Linked DNA regions of Homo sapiens: regions 1, 2 and 4 are each linked to region 3. Evidence: fine-mapped expression QTL. A gene starts in region 3. Each other region holds a variant in brackets. All regions are shown on one strand. Distances are from middle to middle.

What was found. PIP is the estimated chance that this variant, and not a neighbour inherited with it, causes the effect.
Region 1: its variant is the best candidate, but not a certain one, in a credible set for the expression of PKIB in monocytes after LPS (Quach 2016, PIP 0.50).
Region 2: its variant is the best candidate, but not a certain one, in a credible set for the expression of PKIB in whole blood (INTERVAL, PIP 0.90).
Region 4: its variant is the best candidate, but not a certain one, in a credible set for the expression of PKIB in nucleus accumbens (GTEx, PIP 0.56).

What each region holds. Positions count from the first base shown.
Region 1 is chr6:122,537,445-122,542,486 of GRCh38, reverse strand. It overlaps a transcript of PKIB not described here. Among named protein-coding and RNA genes, the nearest start is that of SERINC1, 68 kb to the right of the region's middle. The variant G/AG (reference allele first, on the strand shown) is at 2,672.
Region 2 is chr6:122,696,888-122,701,929 of GRCh38, reverse strand. All of the region lies in intron 3 of PKIB (cAMP-dependent protein kinase inhibitor beta), which reads right to left. Among named protein-coding and RNA genes, the nearest start is that of FABP7, 80 kb to the left of the region's middle. RefSeq lists an enhancer at 4,804-5,042. The variant T/C (reference allele first, on the strand shown) is at 1,930.
Region 3 is chr6:122,608,353-122,613,394 of GRCh38, reverse strand. It overlaps PKIB (cAMP-dependent protein kinase inhibitor beta), which reads right to left and starts at 2,990. Exons shown (of 5, transcript NM_181795.3): 1 at 2,860-2,990. RefSeq lists an enhancer at 1,698-2,343 and a silencer at 2,960-3,139.
Region 4 is chr6:122,388,364-122,393,405 of GRCh38, reverse strand. No RefSeq gene overlaps it. Among named protein-coding and RNA genes, the nearest start is that of HSF2, 8.8 kb to the left of the region's middle. RefSeq lists an enhancer at 1-173. The variant A/G (reference allele first, on the strand shown) is at 2,203.

The DNA of each region.
Region 1 (5,042 bases), 71 kb after region 3:
AGCCACCGCTGCTGATACCCAGGCAAACAGAGTCTGGAGTGGACCTCTAGCAAACTCCAACAGACCTGCAGCTGAGGGTCCTGTCTGTTAGAAGGAAAACTAACAAACAGAAAGGACATCCACACCAAAAACCCTTCTGTGTGTCACCATCATCAAAGACCAAAAGTAGATAAAACCACAAAGATGGGGAAAAAACAGAGCAGAAAAACTGGAAACTCTAAAAAGCAGAGTGCCTCTCCTCCTCCAAAGGAACGCAGCTCCTCACCAGCAACAGAACAAAGCTGGACAGACAATGACTTTGACGAGTTGAGAGAAGAAGGCTTCAGACAATCAAACTACTCTGAGCTACAGGAGGAAATTCAAACCAATGGCAAAGAAGTTAAAAACTTTGAAAAAAAATTAGACAAATGGATAACTAGAATAACCAACGCAGAGAAGTCCTTAAAGGAGCTGATGGAGCTGAAAGCCAAGGCTCGAGAATTAAGTGAAGAATGCAGAAGCCTCAGGAGCCGATGCGATCAACTGGAAGAAAGGGTCTCAGTGATAGAAGACGAAATGAATGAAATGAAGCAAGAAGGGAAGTTTAGAGAAAAAAGAATAAAAAGAAACGAACAAAGCCTCCGAGAAATATGGGACTATGTGAAAAGACCAAATCTACGTCTGATTGGTGTACCTGAAAATGACGGGGAGAATGGAACCAAGTTGGAAAACACTCTGCAGGATATTATCCAGGAGAACGTCCCCAATCTAGCAAGGCAGGCCAACATTCAGATTCAGGAAATACAGAGAACGCCACAAAGATACTCCTCGAGAAGAGCAACTCCAAGACACATAATTGTCAGATTCACCAAAGTTGAAATGAAGGAAAAAATGTTAAGGGCAGCCAGAGAGAAAGGTCAGGTTACCCACAAAGGGAAGCCCATCAGATTAACAGCGGATCTCTCGGCAGAAACTCTACAAGACAGAAGAGAGTGGGGGCCAATATTCAACATTCTTAAAGAACAGAATTTTCAACCCAGAATTTCATATCCAGCCAAACTAAGCTTCATAAGTGAAGGAGAAATAAAATACTTTACAGACAAGCAAATGCTGAGAGATTTTGTCACCACCAGGCCTGCCCTAAAAGAGCTCCTGAAGGAAGCACTAAACATGGAAAGGAACAACCGGTACCACCCACTGCAAAAACATGCCAAAATGTAAAGACCATCAAAGCTAGGAAGAAACTGCATCAACTAATGAGCAAAATAACCAGCTAACATCATAATGACAGGACCAAATTCACAAATAACAGTATTAACTTTAAATGTAAATGGGCTAAATGCTCCAATTAAAAGACACAGACTGGCAAATTGGATAAAGAGTCAAGACCCATCAGTGTGCTGTATTCAGGAAACCCATCTCACGTGCAGAGACACACATAGGCTCAAAATAAAAGGATGGAGGAAGATCTACCAAGCAAATGGAAAACAAAAAAAAGGCAGGGGTTGCAATCCTAGTCTCTGATAAAACAGACTTTAAACCAACAAAGATCAAAAGAGACAAAGAAGGCCATTACATAATGGTAAAGGGATCAATTCAACAAGAAGAGCTAACTATCCTAAATATATATGCACCCAATACAGGAGCACCCAGATTCATAAAGCAAGTCCTGAGTGACCTACAAAGAGACTTAGACTCCCACACAATAATAATGGGAGACTTTAACATCCCACTGTCAACATTAGATAGATCAGTGAGACAAAAGTAAACAAGGACTACCCAGGAATTGAACTCAGCTCTGCACCAAGCAGACCTAATTGACATCTACAGAGCTCTCCACCCCAAATCAACAGAATATACATTTTTTTCAGCACCACACCACACCTATTCCAAAATTGACCACATAGTTGGAAGTAAAGCACTCCTCAGCAAATGTAAAAGAACAGAAATTATAACAAACTGTCTCTCAGACCACAGTGCAATCAAACTAGAACTCAGGACTAAGAAACTCACTCAAAACCACTCAACTACATGGAAACTGAACAACCTGCTCCTGTATGACTACTGGGTACCTAATGAAATGAAGGCAGAAATAAAGATGTTCTTTGAAACCAACGAGAACAAAGACACAACATACCAGAATCTCTGGGACACATTCAAAGCAGTGTGTAGAGGGAAATTTATAGCACTAAATGCCCACAAGAGAAAGCAGAAAAGATCCAGAATTGACACCCTAACATCACAATTAAAAGAACTAGAAAAGCAAGAGCAAACACATTCAAAAGCTAGCAGAAGGCAAGAAATAAGTAAAATCAGAGCAGAACTGAAGGAAATAGAGACACAAAAAACCCTTCAAAAAATTAATGAATCCTGGAACTGGTTTTTTGAAAAGATCAACAAAATCAATAGATCGCTAGCAAGACTAATAAAGAATAAAAGAGAGAAGAATCAAATAGACGCAATAAAAAATGATAAAGGGGATATCACCACCGATCCCATAGAAATACAAACTACCATCAGAGAATACTACAACACCTCTACCCAAATAAACTAGAAAATCTAGAAGAAATGGATAAATTCCTTAACACATACACCCTCCCAAGACTAAACCAGGAAGAAGTTGAATCTCTGAATAGACCAATAACAGGATCTGAAATTGTGGCAATAATCAATAGCTTACGAACCAAAAAAA[G/AG]TCCAGGACCAGATGGATTCACAGCCGAATTCTACCAGAGGTACAAGGAGGAGCTGGTACCATTCCTTCTGAAACTATTCCAATCAATAGAAAAAGAGGGAATCCTCCCTAACTCATTTTATGAGGCCAGCATCATCCTCATACCAAAGCCTGGCAGAGACACAGCCAAAAAAGAGAATTTTAGACCAATATCCTTGATGAACATTGATGCAACAATCTCAATAAAATACTGGCAAACCGAATTCAGCAGCACATCAAAAAGCTTATCCACCATGATCAAGTAGGCTTCATCCCTGGGATGCAAGGCTGGTTCCACATATGCAAATCAATAAACATAATCCAGCATATAAACAGAACCAAAGACAAAAACCACATGATTATCTCAATAGATGCAGAAAAGGCCTTTGACAAAATGCAACAATGCTTCATGCTAAAAACTATCAATAAATTAGGTATTGATGGGACGTATCTCAAAATAATAAGAGCTATCTATGACAAACCCACAGCCAATATCATACTGAATGGGCAAAAACTGGAAGCATTCCCTTTGAAAACTGGCACAAGACAGGGATGCCCTCTCTCACCCCTCCTATTCAACATAGTGTTGGAAGTTCTGGCCAGGGCAATTAGGCAGGAGAAGGAAATAAAGGGTATTCAGTTAGGAAAATAGGAAGTCAAATTGTACCTGTTTGCAGATGAATTGATTGTATATCTAGAAAACCCCATTGTCTCAGCCCAAAATCTCCTTAAGCTGATAAGCAACTTCAGCAAAGTCTCAGGATACAAAATCAATGTACAAAAATCAGAAGCATTCTTATACACCAATAACAGACAAACAGAGAGCCAAATCACGAGTGAACTCCCATTCACAATTGCTTCAAAGAGAATAAAATACCTAGGAATCCAACTTACAAGGGATGTGAAGGACCTCTTCAAGGAGAACTACAAACCACACTGCTCAATGAAATAAAAGAGGATACAAACAAATGGAAGAAGATTCCATGCTCATGGGTAGGAAGAATCAATATTGTGAAAATGGCCATATTGCCCAAGGTAATTTATAGATTCAATGCCATCCCCATCAAGCTACCAATGACTTTCTTCACAGAATTGGAAAAAACTACTTTAAAGTTCATATGGAACCAAAAAAGAGCCTGCATTGCCAAGTCAATCCTAAGCCAAAAGAACAAAGCCGGAGGCATCATGCTACCTGACTTCAAACTATACTACAAGGCTACAGTAACCAAAACAGCATGGTACTGGTACCAAAACAGAGATATAGATCAATGGAACAGAACAGAGCCCTCAGAAATAATGCCACGTATCTACAACCATCTGATCTTTGACAAACCTGACAAAAACAAGAAATGGGGAAAGGATTCCCTATTTAATAAATGGTGCTGGGAAAATTGGCTAGCCATATGTAGAAAGCTGAAACTGGATCCCTTCCTTACACCTTATACAAAAATTAATTCAAGATGGATTATAGACTTACATGTTAGATCTAAAATCATAAAAACCCTAGAAGAAAACCTAGGCAATACCATTCAGGACATAGGCATGGGCAAGGACTTCATGTCTAAAACACCAAAAGCAATGGCAACAAAAGCCAAAATTGACAAATGGGATCTAATTAAACTAAAGACCTTCTGCACAGCAAAAGAAACTACCATCAGAGTGAACAGGTAACCTACAGAATGGAAGAAAATTTTCACAACCTACTCATCTGACAAAGGGCTAATATCCAGAATCTACAATGAACTCAAACAAATTTACAAGAAAAAAACAAACAACCCCATCAAAAAGTGGGCAAAGGATATGAACAGACACTTCTCAAAAGAAGATATTTATGCAGCCAAAAAACACATGAAAAAATGCTCATCATCACTGGCCATCAGAGAAATGCAAATCAAAACCATAATGAGATACCATCTCACACCAGTTAGAATGGCGATCATTAAAAAGTCAGGAAACAACAGGTGCTGGAGAGGATGTGGAGAAATAGGAACACTTTTACACTGTTGGTGGGACTGAAAACTAGTTCAACCATTGTGGAAGTCAGTGTGGCGATTCCTCAGGGATCTAGAACTAGAAATACCCTTTGACCCAGCCATCCCCTTACGGGTATATACCCAAAGGATTATAAATCATGCTGCTATAAAGACACATGCACACGTATGTTTATTGTGGCACTATTCACAATAGCAAAGACTTGGAACCAACCCTAATGTCCAACAACGATAGACTGGATGAAGAAAATGTGGCACATATACCATGGAATACTATGCAGCCATAAAAAATGATGAGTTCATGTCCTTTGTAGGGACATGGATGAAACTGGAAACCACCATTCTCAGCAAACTATCACAAG
Region 2 (5,042 bases), 89 kb before region 3:
TGTTCATACTATTCCTGGTTACAACCCTCACATGCTCCTGCATGCCCTGCAATGTTCTTCTCCTTTGGTGGTATGTATGACCAGTAAACTGCTGTGGATCTCATCTGTCCAGTGTTGGGTGTTGGTTGTCTAGGCATCTCTGAATCTCCAGGGCAGGAATCTTTCGTTCACCAATGGGGTGAATAGAAAGCAATAAAATCCACTGGTGTTATGAACCATATGACATGCCCAACCATTTCAGAAGACACCTAGTCAGTTAAAATTAACTGTTCCTTGGTTATTTGGTTCTGAGTTATTTGGCAAGGGTACCTGAGACAGAACTGCTAACTGCTGATGGGCTTGAGCTATGGCCTATGTGGCACTGTTATGCCATCTCTTTTAACTCTGCAATGCTCTTGTCCCCAAGAAGAAAATGGTTGTTAACTATACCCTGGTGTGACATGCTGTCAGGTTCAGCCTGTGTTTGGCAGGTGATCTCTGAAGCTTCAGCCTGTAAATGCAATGAGAAAACAGTGCCTTAACCAGTCAGTACTTCATTCCTGCTTACCAGAGCTCAGGCTAGAGCTCTCTGATCACCATGTCTAGCCTGGTGACTGTCACTGGCTGCTTGGAGCAGCAATACAGACATTGCTTGTAATGGTACACCTATGGAACAGGCGCAGAGGCAGCCCTGTGTGAGGTTTGTGGGAAGGAAAGTGGCCACACCATGGAGAACCAAGCATGGTATCCTGGTTGCCATTGTTGTTCATGCAAAGGTAGTGACCTTTCTGGTCTCCTCTGCTGCTGCTTCCTGAGCTGCTATTGCTTGCACTCTCATGACTCCGAAGGGCATCGAGGTGCAGATCCATGGTGGCCTGTGGCACAGGTGCTAATGAAAAAAGAAAAGGGTGGGGAGAGGAAGGAGCATTTGGTACTCAAATGATTTGCCAATGCAAAACCCATAGCCAGTATGCCTGGGCTCAGCACTGCTGCCTACTAGCACACCAAATGGCCAATCTTGCAATCATGGGCTTGCTGGCCCTATCCAAGCCATAGACTAATGACTTTACTGGATATGGACCTCAACTCTAGAGAGATGGACTCGCACTTCCTAGAGGAAGAGGCAGCCACTTCTGAGAAAGGCCACTAAGCTCCCTAATGTTTTCCCATAAGTACCCAGAAAGTTTGCACCACAGGTGATTTTACAGAAAGCTCCAATTTCACCTAGCTAAAAACTCAAAATATTCTCAGGGAATTTGTGCAGAGAAAGAAACAAACAAAGAGGGAAAAAGTCCACACGACAGAAACGGTAGGGCAGTGGCAGCAGGAGATAATTTTGGTCTATTGAGTCTGGGTTATAAACCTAGCTTTCTTTCCCTGTACCACTCTGCTTACTATGTCTCTGTTGCAATAAAGATCCTAATCCTTGAGGTTATAGAGAAATACCTATGTTACCTTTGTGGCACTGTGGTACCCCATGGCACCATTAATTCAAACTCAACTTAAGCCCAGGGTCTTTAAACCATATAAAGCAACCATTGCTGTGGGGGAAACCCCTAACCCTGATGATACTAATTTGAAGCTCTCTGAGAGAAAAGACTTATAAGTATCATCAGGGTAAAGAGGATCCCACACCACCACCCCACCACCACCAAATATGTCCAGTGACCACCACTAAAAAAAAAAAAAAAAAAAAAAAGAAAGAAAAGAAATTTTAAAAAGCAAAGAAAAAAATATCCTGGATACGGGGAGGAACCAACAACAACAACAACAACAACAACAGAACCCTAAAACAAAGATCTACAATTTGACCCAATTGGAAATTCAAAATATATTAAAGGCATTTATATAGCCAAGATAAAGGGGCACTGATTGGCTTTTGTGCCTCTACAGTATAGGTTCTTAATTAACTTTAATACCTGCTGAAATGCACCAATTGGCAAACCTTCA[T/C]GGTTTTAACTGGCATTAGGGCTCAGATTACAGTTATGACTAGGATCTTCCTAAATTTAAACATGGTATCCCCCATAACATTAGGGGAGTTCTGGCATATAAAATAGAGGACAAAGAGATATGCCTCTTCTTAACCATCATAATTACTGTCTTGCCTAAATTTCTCATCATGGTCATAGCAATCATTGCCCTAAAATATCCCATAATGGACATGGACGCTCTGACCCAATGAAAAATAAATGGAAATTAGATTAAATCTTGACACTTATAAATTGGCTTGACAGGATGGAAACTCCCGACTCTTCTGCCTCCACCCCAAATTAAAATAATTATTAACATGGCTCAAAGTAATTTAAAACAGGGCTTTTGAGGATTAAAATTTGTTACATGACAGCTATAGAGTGCAGGGGTTATTATCCCCACTGCTTCTCCATTTAACAACCCAATCTGGCCTGTTTGGCCTGTCCTTAAACCTGGAACAAATAAATGGTGCAGCACAGTAGACTGCTGCAACCTTAATGCCATGGTCCCATACAGTTCAGGTCCCTATTTCCAACAAACTGAGTATTGAAACTTCTGACTCCATCCAATCAGCAACTGATAAATATTTTGCTACTATGAATTAGGCTAATATGATCCATTTGGTGCCAATGTCAGCAGTTTAGCAGTCACAGTTTGCTTTTACCTCCCATGAGACACAATATATATATATATATTTTAGTTCACAAATGCAATTCTTTTTTTTTTATTATTATACTTTAAGTTTTAGGGTACATGTGCACATTGTGCAGGTTAGTTACATATGTATACATGTGCCATGCTGGTGCGCTGCTACATAATATATTTTTACCAGGCTACTCAAGGGCTACCTCAGCAGCCTTGCTACTGCACACAGTCTTTGCAGGCAGGATCTTAATGACATCCACCTTTCTCCAGGAGCACAGGTATATTACATTGATGACATCCTTCTCCAGGAAGATTTGTTTGACGTATTCATTAAGAATATACAAATACAAAGGAACTCACACAAAAAGGGTGGATATTTCACACATAGTACAAAGTCCTGTGACTTCTGTTAAATTCCTGAAAGTTATTTGGTAAAGCAAAAGCTGCTCCATCCCTGATACTGTCAAAAAACAGGTATTAACCCTCTCAGTACCTACAAGGTTAATACAAGTCCAACATCTTTTAGTCTTTTTTGGGTTCTGGAGACAACATATTCTTTTGCAAATTTTCTTTAATTTCACTAGTGCTGTTACTTACAGATTGCCCATCTTAAAGGGGAACCTCCTCAACAAAAGGCTGTAGAAGCTGTCCAAAATGAAATCAACAGGCACTCCAGTTAGTGCCCTCAGAGGCTTCAGCGACCTCATCTCATGCCTCCTGGAGTCTCTAGGCCACCTGTGATGGTCATAAGTTGCTCATGGGCTTCTGATGCAAGAAACTGCCTTTCCTGGCCTTGTACTATACACCATTACAGTGGCAATTACTGGCCACACACTGGGCTTTTCTGGAAATAGAGGGTCTCACAGACTTTGAGCCTGTGACCCTCTGTACCCAGCTACTGCAATGCCTGGTAATGCATTGGAGCAGCACCCCCATGAATCTGGCCTAGCTATGAGACCTCTTTGCGACAGGATGGAGTCAAGCTTGGCCCTTCTGGCATATTCTATCTGTAGAAGGTGGTGGCCTCCTCTACCATCAGTCCTTTGCCAAAACCATGGTGCTAGGGGAAGTCATCCCTTTCCTAGAGTCCTTGGCTACCTGGAGAGCCCCCTGGGATCAACTGAATGAATGGCAATAGAAGGCCATACATTTTACCAATGATGTTGCCACAATTATACATGATAGAGCTCAGTAGAGAGTTGTTGCTCTTAATTCCTTAACCAAGATGTCCCTGATAAAGAATAGAACCCAAGGGTCAGCACAATTGGCACACTCTAGACATTTATCTTGGCAATGGATGCCCTGGCCATTTCACCTCATATGTATATTTTTACAACTCTTAGACCATTGCCTAAGGGTCTCACTTTAAAGAACTCTGTGAATCTCTTGTTTCACAGGTACCCAAATATAAATATATAAACCAAATCAACAGGTTTCTCTACATATCCTAAGGCCACAATACAAGGCCTCAACAGGATATTCCTTATCTCATTTGCAGTTTTAGACACTAGATTGTTACCAAGGCACTCATTTTATGTCTCAGAATACACAATGGAATCTTGAAGAAAGCTTTCCATTGAAATGCAGCCTTCCCATAGGCCTCAGGTAGTTAGCCCCAGGCAGCTACTTTAATTGATAAGCCTAATGGGTTTTCAAAGAACTATTTAAGTCACAATGAGACAAATGTCCCTCTACCCCCTTGATGTCACCACTGCCACAAGCATTGGTTAGTCTCAATTCACACCCCCTGGGAGCATCCACTCTCTACATCAATGTCACACAGGTCTCTCAATTGCTTTTACTGGTTATATATGGAGACATGCCCGAAGTTCATGTTTTTGGCAACCACCTCAAAATGTGGCCCTCTCTGCTTGGTCAGGTGCCTACTTTGCTTCCTAGGAAGGCACATCTCCTAATCCCTAAAAGTCTCAGTTATCATCAAGATTTAAACTGATGTCAAAGCATCAAGTGATCAATTGTAGCATAAAGCCAAAAATTTAGGCTTGATATCTGATAAAACAGGTCTCTAATGGCCTAACTACAAGTTCTCCTCCCATAGATCAGGTATCCTAGACAGACCACCATCCTTATGAAGGGGACCAGGCACAGTTTCTATTTATCCTTGAGTAGCAGGTTTTGTTCTCTGTTTGCCTGCCAAATCAAACAAGTGAATCACATCATTCCACAAGAACTGGGAGCACCCTACCCTCTTAATTCTCCAAAGGCTACCTCCTACAGACCTGGTTGTTCACTCTGCTCTTGAGTGCAACTCCTGTGTGGCCCTGCAAGGTGTGCCATGTCCTCCTCCCCCAGGCCATCAGTAGACATGACTAATAACTTGCTGTTGGTCTCATCTCTTCAGGGTCAGGTGGTGTTTAGCTCTCCCTCACCCACAGGGTAAATAGGAGGTGACTAAGACACCCTACCACTAATAGCATGTTCCTTTC
Region 3 (5,042 bases):
ATATGCTTAATTATTATTTAAAATAATTATATGGAATCATGATTAACAATGCTTATCACAAGACATATAGTTCACAAGACGTATAGTTTATTTTTGATGTTGAGGAAAGAATAATTTTGTTTTTTCTAACTCAATTAAAATTTTGCATTGAAGAAATGGAAAACCACCGAATTTATTGTCCAGCCATTCAGAGCTGGCTAAGTCTCAACACTTAAAATACAATTTTCAAACTGCATGCTTTCTCATTTTCAATTGACATTAATGAAAATTTAGTCTTGATTAAGCCTGATTCATGCTCATTTAGCATTAAAAAACATTAGGCAAGAAATATCTCGTTTCTGAGAAATATTGCGACATTTTTTTCAAAAGTGTTTGCTGTACCTCAGCTCTAAATTTGAAGAGAAGCAATGGTTCCTCTCCCAAGCCTCTCTCTATATACATATAACATCATATATGATCCAGTAAGAAACATTTATTTTTCCAGAATTTTTTAAATTTTTATATATATAACTTCTACAAAAATTACTCTATAGTGTTCCTTAAAAGTTAGACACAAGTTTGTCATACAACCTACCAATTTCACTGTTAAGCATCTACCCAAGAGAAATGAAAACGGGTACTCACAAACACTTGAATGCAAATGTTCTCAGCAGCATGATTCATAATATTCCCATATTGGAAACAACCCAAATATCCATCCACTAGTAAATTGACAAAATGTGGTATATCCATACAATGGAAAACTATTCAGCAATAAGAAGAAATGAAATACTGATACATGCCACAACATAGCTGAACCCCAAAAACATTATGCTAAGTAAGAGAAGCCATAAGCAAAAGACCATATAGTATATCATTCCATTTATATAAAATGTTCAGAAAAGGCAAATCTATAGACTGAAAGTAGATTAATGGTTGCCTGGGAATGGGAGTGGGAACAAAGACATAATGGACATAAGGAATCTTACCAAGTGAGTAAACTGTTCTAAAACCAGATATGGTAATGGTTTTACAATTTTGGAATGTTCTAAAACCAGATATGGTAATGGTTTTACAACTTTTAGAAAATTAACAAATTTTCTAAAACTCACTGAAATATAATTTTTAAATATTATTCACCCTTAAAGGGTGAACTTTATAATATATAAATTATATCTCAATAAAGTTGTAAAAAAATGCTGTAATGCAAACTGCGTAAGAATTTAAATAATTGTAAGAACTGTGAGGAAAATTAAATTGATCTATCATTGATCTAAACAATATGTTTGCAATCGACTAAAAAGGAGGAAAAACTCTTTAACAAAAATGAAATTTGACACATTTTAAAATATTCTGCATAATGTGGTCCATTAGTCTTTGATATTTTATTGAAGAAAGTTGTGGTAAAGATAAGATTGAGAAGTCCATTACTAAAAACGTTTTCCAAAAGATTTCCTTTCCAAAGCTATACTTTCCTTCAAAATCGAATCTTTTGAACTTCCAAAACACCTTTTTAGCAAATGATCTCTTGAGATAGTGTCACTAGGGGGGCATTGACCAGCACCCGGCACACTAACAGGAAACAAGGTTTATAAACTGCTGATTTAACCAAACTTGATCCATAACCTACCCCATTTTCCGTGAGCATTATGGTCATCAGTTCTCATTTTAATAATCCAAATGCTGAGCTTTCTAAATATAAAATCCCAGGAGGATTTTTTTTGAATGTGTGGCAATGTCAGTAAGAAGGAAGGCATCTTGTGAAGAGATAAAGTGGACAGATGAATTTTGAAATCTATCTGTACACGAAGAGAAATGCAATACTCGCAATATTTCTAATTCAATACCTTTCAGTATGCAAACCACTGATAAAAGAGTTTTTTTAAAATTTTTTTTCTAGATGAACGTTTAAGTGGTCATTCGCCTCAAATCTCCACTTTCCAGTCCTGCACAGACTCCAGCTAATAACACTACCACCTGCAGGGTGTTTTGTTGTTTGTTTGTTGTTTGTTTTAGTGCTTCCCACATGCCTAGTTCACGCATGCACTTTTCTAAAGGACCCGAGTTCCGTTGGCTGCGTTCCCCGGGGAGCTCTACGAAGACCGGTCTGACCTGGCCCTCTCAGCTCCCTTGGAAGGGACCTGCTGCAAGGCAGGGTCATTTGGCTCCGAAATGCACCTTCAGGAATTTCCCCAAGGGGCTAGCATCAGCACCAACCGGAACACAGGCCCTCCGCTCCCTCAGCCCGCGACCACCTGGCACTCGTGTCCCTCCCTGCGGCCTGCCGGGGTCCTAGGAGCAGGGAAAATCCAATAGCTACGGGCGACCCTTGAGTTTACTCGGTCTACCCACCTCCATATTTTATCCAAAGAATGGACGGAGGCCAGTGAGGTGAGGTGACTTGGCTAAAGCCACACAGCCGGACGCTGGCCGAGCGGGTTAGTACTCGGGTCTCTGCTAACCCCGCGGCCGCTCGTGACTACCCGGGGCTTGGTAAGCACCGCCCAGGGGAAAGACTTGGCATTGCTGGCGCGAGAGCCGAAGGACTCAGCGACTTGTGACAGGAGGTCATCAATGGCCACCTGCAGGGCAGAGTGGGCAAAAGGCAGGTGACAGACCTCCCACGTCACGCCTGTTGGCGTGAGCGTCCTTTTCACTCTCTAAGTACCCTGACTTGTGAGTTAAACGATGGATCGGGTCGCCCAAGCGAAAGAGGCATCTGCTTCGAACTCCCCCCATATTTGTGCCAGCAGGGCAGAAAATAGGAAAGTTGCACTTACCACATCTTCCCTGGGTCAGTCTCCCCCGACTTCCCAAGTCCCACTCCTCCCTCCTCGCATAGGGACACCCACTCACGCGCCCGCTCCACCAGGTACGTACCAGCCGCGCGCAGCTGCCTGCCCTGCCGGTGCCCTGGCGCTCGCGCTCGCCCAGCGCTCTGCGGCCCGGAGCTGCGACTCGGGCTCTAGCTCGCTGCCGCCTCTACAGTCCACCGGGATGCGGCCGCGTCTGAGCTACTGGGCTGGGGCGCAGCCAGGCGGTGGCAGCTACTCGGGGGCGGAGGGAGCGGCCGCCGCGTCCCGCCCCCAGGCTACGAGCGCGGCTCCCCAGGCGGTGTCCCGCTCTCCGTGCAAACCGGGCCACCGCATCACTCCCCGGGGCACGTGCCACGGTAGCTTTTTTCTGCTGGCAGCCTGGGGCGAGCTCTTTTATCCTACTTGTGCGTTAACCACCAACTAATTATCGGTGATCGTCACACAACCCGCGTCCTCCCCGCCCGCCACTCCCAGTTCCCTTGGGCGATGATGAGGTTCTGCTAAGATTTCTGTGACGTGACTGCGGGAATTTCAATTCCCTTCCTGCTTTCCGACGTCGCATCGTGTTTTCTGTCCCTCCGGTTGTACGCGCCCTGAGCAGGGTTTGTGCTCCAGGTGTCATTAAGGTTGCCCTTTGATCTAATGTTGGCTGTTTGGAGAAGGTAGGAAGGTACACAGGCTTATCTACGCCCCGAATCTGGGTCTTCGAGTTTGTTAACAGATTATTTTAACAGATTAGGAAGCAATATGCAATGGAAACAACTTTTTGTGCAATAAAAGCAGAAAATAATGTATATCAAGTTTCACTTTCAGGTTCTCACTAAGAAAAATAAAGTCGTTACTACTAAGGTCTCACTGTGCTTTTTAAAAGCCATATTACATGGACGACGATACTGCTGATAAAATTAATTTATCTGCTTCCTGAGAAAGTGGTTTCTCACTGAAGTCTTAAAATCTCCTCTGGTCTCCTGAAACTCTTAATTAGTACTCAAAGTCTTCTCTTATCTCTAGTCTTTACTAATTTGCTCATTCATACTATGCTCTGACTTGCCACCCAAAGCCTATGACACCTGCCAATGACCACTTCCAAATTCCCTTTTTAGGCAAAAGCCTAAATATGGAAATACGAAAATATAATCAGACTAATATTTTATTCAGTGTGTGCTAATGGTAGTACAATCAAGTTCTTTAAATTATTCAATATTCATACCTCCACAATATAGTAATAATTTTCTCTATTTTCAGATAGTAAACTGAGGTTCAGCAAGGTTAGATACTTTGAACAAGGCTAAATAGCTGAGAAGATTCCAAATCAGTTTTGAACTTAGGTCTTTCTGCCTTCAGGATTGATTGACTTCCTTAAATTATACTCTGCTAATAAAGCTGTGATTTTTCTGAATTGTGATGTAGGCACATTTTGTTTTGTATTAGGTTAGTGCAAAAGTAATTGCAAAAAAGTACTGGCAAAAACTGCAGTAGCTTCTGCACCCGCCTAATAAAAATATAGTTACTTGTGTGGTTACACAAGCATTAATCAAAGAGACTGAGAGTTATTTATATCATTAGTGTAACTTTAAAACTTATTATCTGGCATACTGCTAAGGCCTGTTATTATTATATTATATAATAACATATATTTTTATTATCTAGGGCAAATTATTCTAAGGTTTATTTATTTTAGAGGTACTATGACAGAGAGTGATACTAAAATGTTTGAACTTATGAATTATGGTATCATGATTGGATTTTTATGATCCTGCAAGTGTATTTCCTATACTTGAAAATTTTGCTTTGTAAAATCTGTATTTTGGGATCAATGTGAGAAAACCACTAGACCTCACTGCTAAGCTTTTAACCTACATATGAAATCATCAGAACCACTGGAATGTATGGCCCATGAAGGCCATATCCTCAACACCTAGAATAGTACCTTCACAAAGTAGGTACTCTACAGGCCGTTTTGAAATGAATAAGTATTAACTTTGTTTCCACACTTAAGACCAAATAATGACTTATAAGAACACTATTTATAGAATGCTTTTGTCTATTTAGATTTAAGATTTTTGATGGCCTCTCATTTCTACTAGGAAAGTAAGGAGAAGATGCGGAAAGGTTTGCAGTAGCTGCTTTTGCAAATGTTAGACACGACCTGACCATAAGTGCAAGGAGGAGTTTTTGAGTCCAAGAATTGGTGGTAGCAGTAATTCCACACAATCATGTGAATTGTGAATTTGTGTCAAATATATG
Region 4 (5,042 bases), 220 kb after region 3:
AGGATCAAGACCGTCCTGGCTAACACGGTGAAACCTTATCTCTACTAAAAATACAAAAAATTAGCCAGGCGTGTGGGACACGCCTGTGCTCTCAGCTACTCCGGAGGCTGAGGCAGGAGAATTGCTTGAACCCAGGAGGCGGAGTTTGCAGTGAGCTGAGACTGCGCCACTGCACTCCAGCCTGGATGACAAAGCAAGACTCTGACTCAAAAAAAAAAAAAAATTTGCTACTTAATGGCAGAACTCTTGATTTATAAAGCCCTTATATATGGTAATTGTTATATTTGCTATAATTTACTTTAAAATACTACAATTTAAAGAGGAGTATATAGTGTGGTAGTTAATTGTAATCTGCACCCTAGGGGCAGTCAAGTTAACAGTTGAAAAACCCGAATTAGGAAGGCATTCTCCAGGGGTGGTTAGTTAGCATATGAAAGACTAATCTAATGCTTTTCCTATGAAGATTTAATCTTAATGTTTATTTTTTTAATTAATACCAAAGTTTTGTTAACTAGGGCAATGGATGTGGAAATGATTTCTTTCTTGGTAAAATTAATGAAGTTCAGGATATGTGTATTGACTAAAAATAGTGTATTGTCTTTCCCCATTTTTGACTAACCTGAGAATGGTGTTATCTTGAACTGGTAGCCTATTCTCTAGGTGCCCTAACCTTAGGATCCTCATAGACCCAGTGTTCAGGGGATTTAGGTGGCCTGAAGCAAGAGTAAAAATAGAGGCTTACATGCCATATTTCAGAAGTTTTAAAGATTGCAAATCAAGCTAACAAACTTAAATAAAATATGTTCTAGTCTCCTAGCTTGAAAAATATATCTTCATAATAATAAAATTAAAAGATATGTGTCAAATCATAGTTTTCAGCTGGGCATGGTGGTGCATGCCTGTAGTTCCAGCTACCCAGGAGGCTAAGGCAGGATTGCTTGAGCCCAGGAGTTTAAGGCTGCAATGAGCTGTGATTGCGCCAGTGCACTGCAGGCTGGGTAACAGAGTGAGACCCTGTCTCAAAAAACAAAAAAACAAACAAACAAACAATGTATGTATAGTTTTCATAAGACACTAGGTTGGCAAAATATTTTTAAATTAACTTTGATCCACGAAGATCAAATGTAATTATTGTTTGGTGTTCTGTTGATGGAGGAATGATGTTTTTGATGATTAATAAAATAGAGATATATAATTTGTAGATCATTGTATATTTATTCCATAAAATTATTTTTTCTTGCCTATATTTCAGTTAGATTGTCACCATCAAGGTTGTCACATAACCTATGTTCTATTGGATCAAAGTATTTGAAATGTAGTTGTATTCAAAGTACAACTGTATTTAACAACCAAATCTGAATATATTTTATAAAATGTATTTCAAATACATGTTAAAAATAGGAAAATTAAAGTTTTTGTACATTTTGTTTTAAAATATTTAGAAATATCATAAAATTAAAAATTAAATTATAATTAATAAATTTCTAATTTAAAAACAAAATCATTCATATAAATTTGACATTTTAAGCTTAATATTTTGAAACTATAATCAGATTGTATTAAACATTTCAAAAAAATAAACTATTCTCACTCAGAAGCAGCTGGCATGGGCATAAAGTAGTACAACCTGCAAACCTTGTGTCTCAAGGGCGTAGGAGAAGAATTTTCCTGGAGCTCTTAGTTGCTGGAATAATGTTTAGAGTTACACTATGCCAACACGGAGTGCTGGATTCCAAATGATAGAAGTGACCGTTTGTTCCTTAATAAATTAATTTTTTGGTATGTGTTATGATATTCAGGGCTCTTTAAGGTGCTGGGCTCCAAAAAGAGATTCCTCTCCTAGATTATAAAGGCAATACTGCTACTTAGAGTAGATTTTTGTCACCTGACTTTCTTGAAAGTTAGCTGAATCCCACTGTTAGAATACTGCAACATATTCTATGCAACATACTTCATCAGGTTTATATAGCAGGGTGAATAACTTTTTGTGCCTTCTTGCTAATACATCTTTGTATGTGTGGCAGAATTTCTGCTTTTTTCATGACGATTATTTTAATATTTTTAAAATATAAACTTCTTTCTGGTGGTAAGGTTTTGGTCAACTCAACTTCACCTAGCTCTAACTCTTTGAAGCTACCAAAACAGTCATTGTGGATAATCAAATTGGCTTAGATTAGTTCTCAGAAGTGTAAATCTGGCAAA[A/G]TTTTCTAAACTGATGCAACAAAATAGATCCCTACATTGAACTATGAGTTCAGTTAGCTGGGAAGCTGATTTTCAGTGCTGGGGGTCATAGATTTTATTGCATATGACTTTGTAGGCATTAGTGGCTAAAGATATATTTCAAGACGTACTAAAAAGCACTACGGCCAATAAAGGCCTCCGAGTATCACTCTGTAGAGAACTCCCATTGCCTCCAATGTAGGGATTATATCATTTATTTTCTTGATTTATTTGAACGACCTACTATTCCCTCTAGTTTGCATTCATACAGGGTAACTCATTTGACAACCTGGTGTCATCCTTCCAAATTTTCTCTATTTACAGTAGGTTATATATGTATTTATATGTATAAAGAGAGTTTATTGGCATTATTTTTATATAAAACATTTTCCCAATTTTTAAAATTTACTTTTAATTGCAGTAAAATATACACAATTTAAAATTTACCATCTTAACAATTTTTAAGTGTACAGTTTAATAGCGTTAAGTACATTCACTTTCTTGTGCAATCAATCTCTAGAATGCCTTTCATCTTGCAAATCTGAAACTCCATACCCATTAAATAACATTTATGCTTTTCCTCCTTCCCTCAGCCCCTGGCAACCACCATTTTACTTTCTGTGGTTATAAATTTAACTACTCTATTACCTCATATATTTGGGATCATACAGTCTTTGTCTTTTTGTAACTGGTTTATTTCACTTAGCATGTCTTCAAGGTTCATCCATATTGTAAACATGTGTCATAATTTTCTGTCTTTTTAAAAGCTAAATAATATTCGTTTGTATGCATACACCACATTTTTTTTATTCGTTCATCAATGGACACAAGTTATTTCTACCTTTTGACTATTGTGAATAATGCTGCTATGAACATTGGTGTATATAAACAATTTTATGCATTTTGCTTTTCTCAGTTGATAACGCATGGTAGAAACTCTTTCATGTCAATTGGCATAGCTATAATTTATTCCTTTTAAAGATTCCATGATATTCTGTGGCTTGTATGCAGCACAATAGATTCAGCCATTCTGCTACTGATGGGCATCTGCTTTGTTTCAAGGTTTTTATTTTTTTTCCACTCTGAGATGCTGCAAAAATATTCCTTAAAGATAAATTATTAAGCATTGGTGCTTTTATTTCTGTGTAGTAGTAAATTCAGATTTTCATGTATAATTTGCATGGTAAATCTATACTTTAGATTACTGTACCAGGATATAAAAAGAGCATGCTGCTGTTTAAAAAGCCCCACGTTTGAGCTAACAGAATGCTATTGTATACGTATCCAACACTATGACGCTCCTAGCAACAAGAAATGTCAACATCATGCTTCTATGGCAATAGCAAATGTTTAAGCAAGACAGAGAATAATCTAATATTTAGTGCTCAGGGGTGATTTCACCTTTGGATAGAAATAAAAGGAGATACCTTTATTCTTTGTTATTTTCATAACACAATGCAAAGCCAGGAAACTATACACTTTATTACATGTGATTTTTGGGGGCACTGGTGGCTGAAGATATATTCTGTATTGCTTTTGGACCAATTTAGGTCTGGTTTATTTTCCACTGAATTAATTCATAATTATCTGTAACTATCTCTTCTAGTCCTAGCCAGCTGTGAAAAATGAAGATAGTAAACAAAATGAGCTAGTGTTCTGGTGTTTAGAGATATTTATTGAAATTGAGACCCAGAGAGGTTCGATTACATTCTAATAGGTTCACGATCAGCATGTTTTATATATATATGTGTGTGTGTGTGTTTGTGTGTGTGTGTGTGTGTGCATGTGTTTTGATTCAGACTTTTCCACTTTGAAGCCTATGCCTTTCTATCACTTTATGATTTGCCGTATGATGACCCTAGAAGAATCCAAACCAAATCTGGTATCCCAAGTCTCTTGTATCTGATGTTCCCAGAGTGAGTGCTTGACATCCCCTGTTCAAAGTGGCAGGCTTCCAATTTGACTCTCTTTAGCCTATAACTAGGCTGCACTCCAATTCCCATATGAGAGGCAGAGCCCTGCCGCCCATACCCACCTACTTGGCTGGGCTGCTCCCTTAGCCCTTACTCAGGATCTTCCACAGGCTGGCTAAGACCTATAGTCACCAGTTAACAAGACTCTATTCTAATAAGAATTAGAATGTGTAATAAAGTTCTGCTTTTTTATGGTAACTATTTTAATGTTTTTAAGATATAAAAATCTGCAATAAACAAACAAATGAACATAATTGAACAAAAACATGTTTTGGTTCTCCTGCTTTGGTGCTTAGTGAGGTCATTGTGTGCTTTGATCCTGAGTCTTGTTTCCATCAGATAAATCATTTGGGTCTTTATACTATGTGTTATGGGCTGACTTGTGTCCCCTCAAGCTTTATTTGTTGAAATTTGAATCCCCCAGTACCTCAGAATGTGACTGTTTTTTGAGATAGGGCCTTTATGGATATAATTGATATAAAATGAGTCCATGCAGGTAGGCCTGATCTAGTATTACTGGTGTCCTTATAAGAAGGGGAGATTCAAATGCAGACAATACACAGACCTACAGACTGAGGGGTAATTATGTGAGAACACAGGGAAAAGGAATCCATCGGCAAGCCAAGAAGAAAGGTCTTAGAAGAAACTAGATCTGCCAACACTTTGATCTTGGACTTCTAGCCTCCAGAACAGTGAGAAAATAATTTTCCATTGTTTTAGCAACTGAGACTGCTAATGTACTCTCTATAGGAGGACTTTCAACTATACCAAAACCTTGTGACAACCAAAAAGTCCAACTACTCTGGATATTAAACAACTTTGATAAAAACATTTTACTAACCTTGCTGA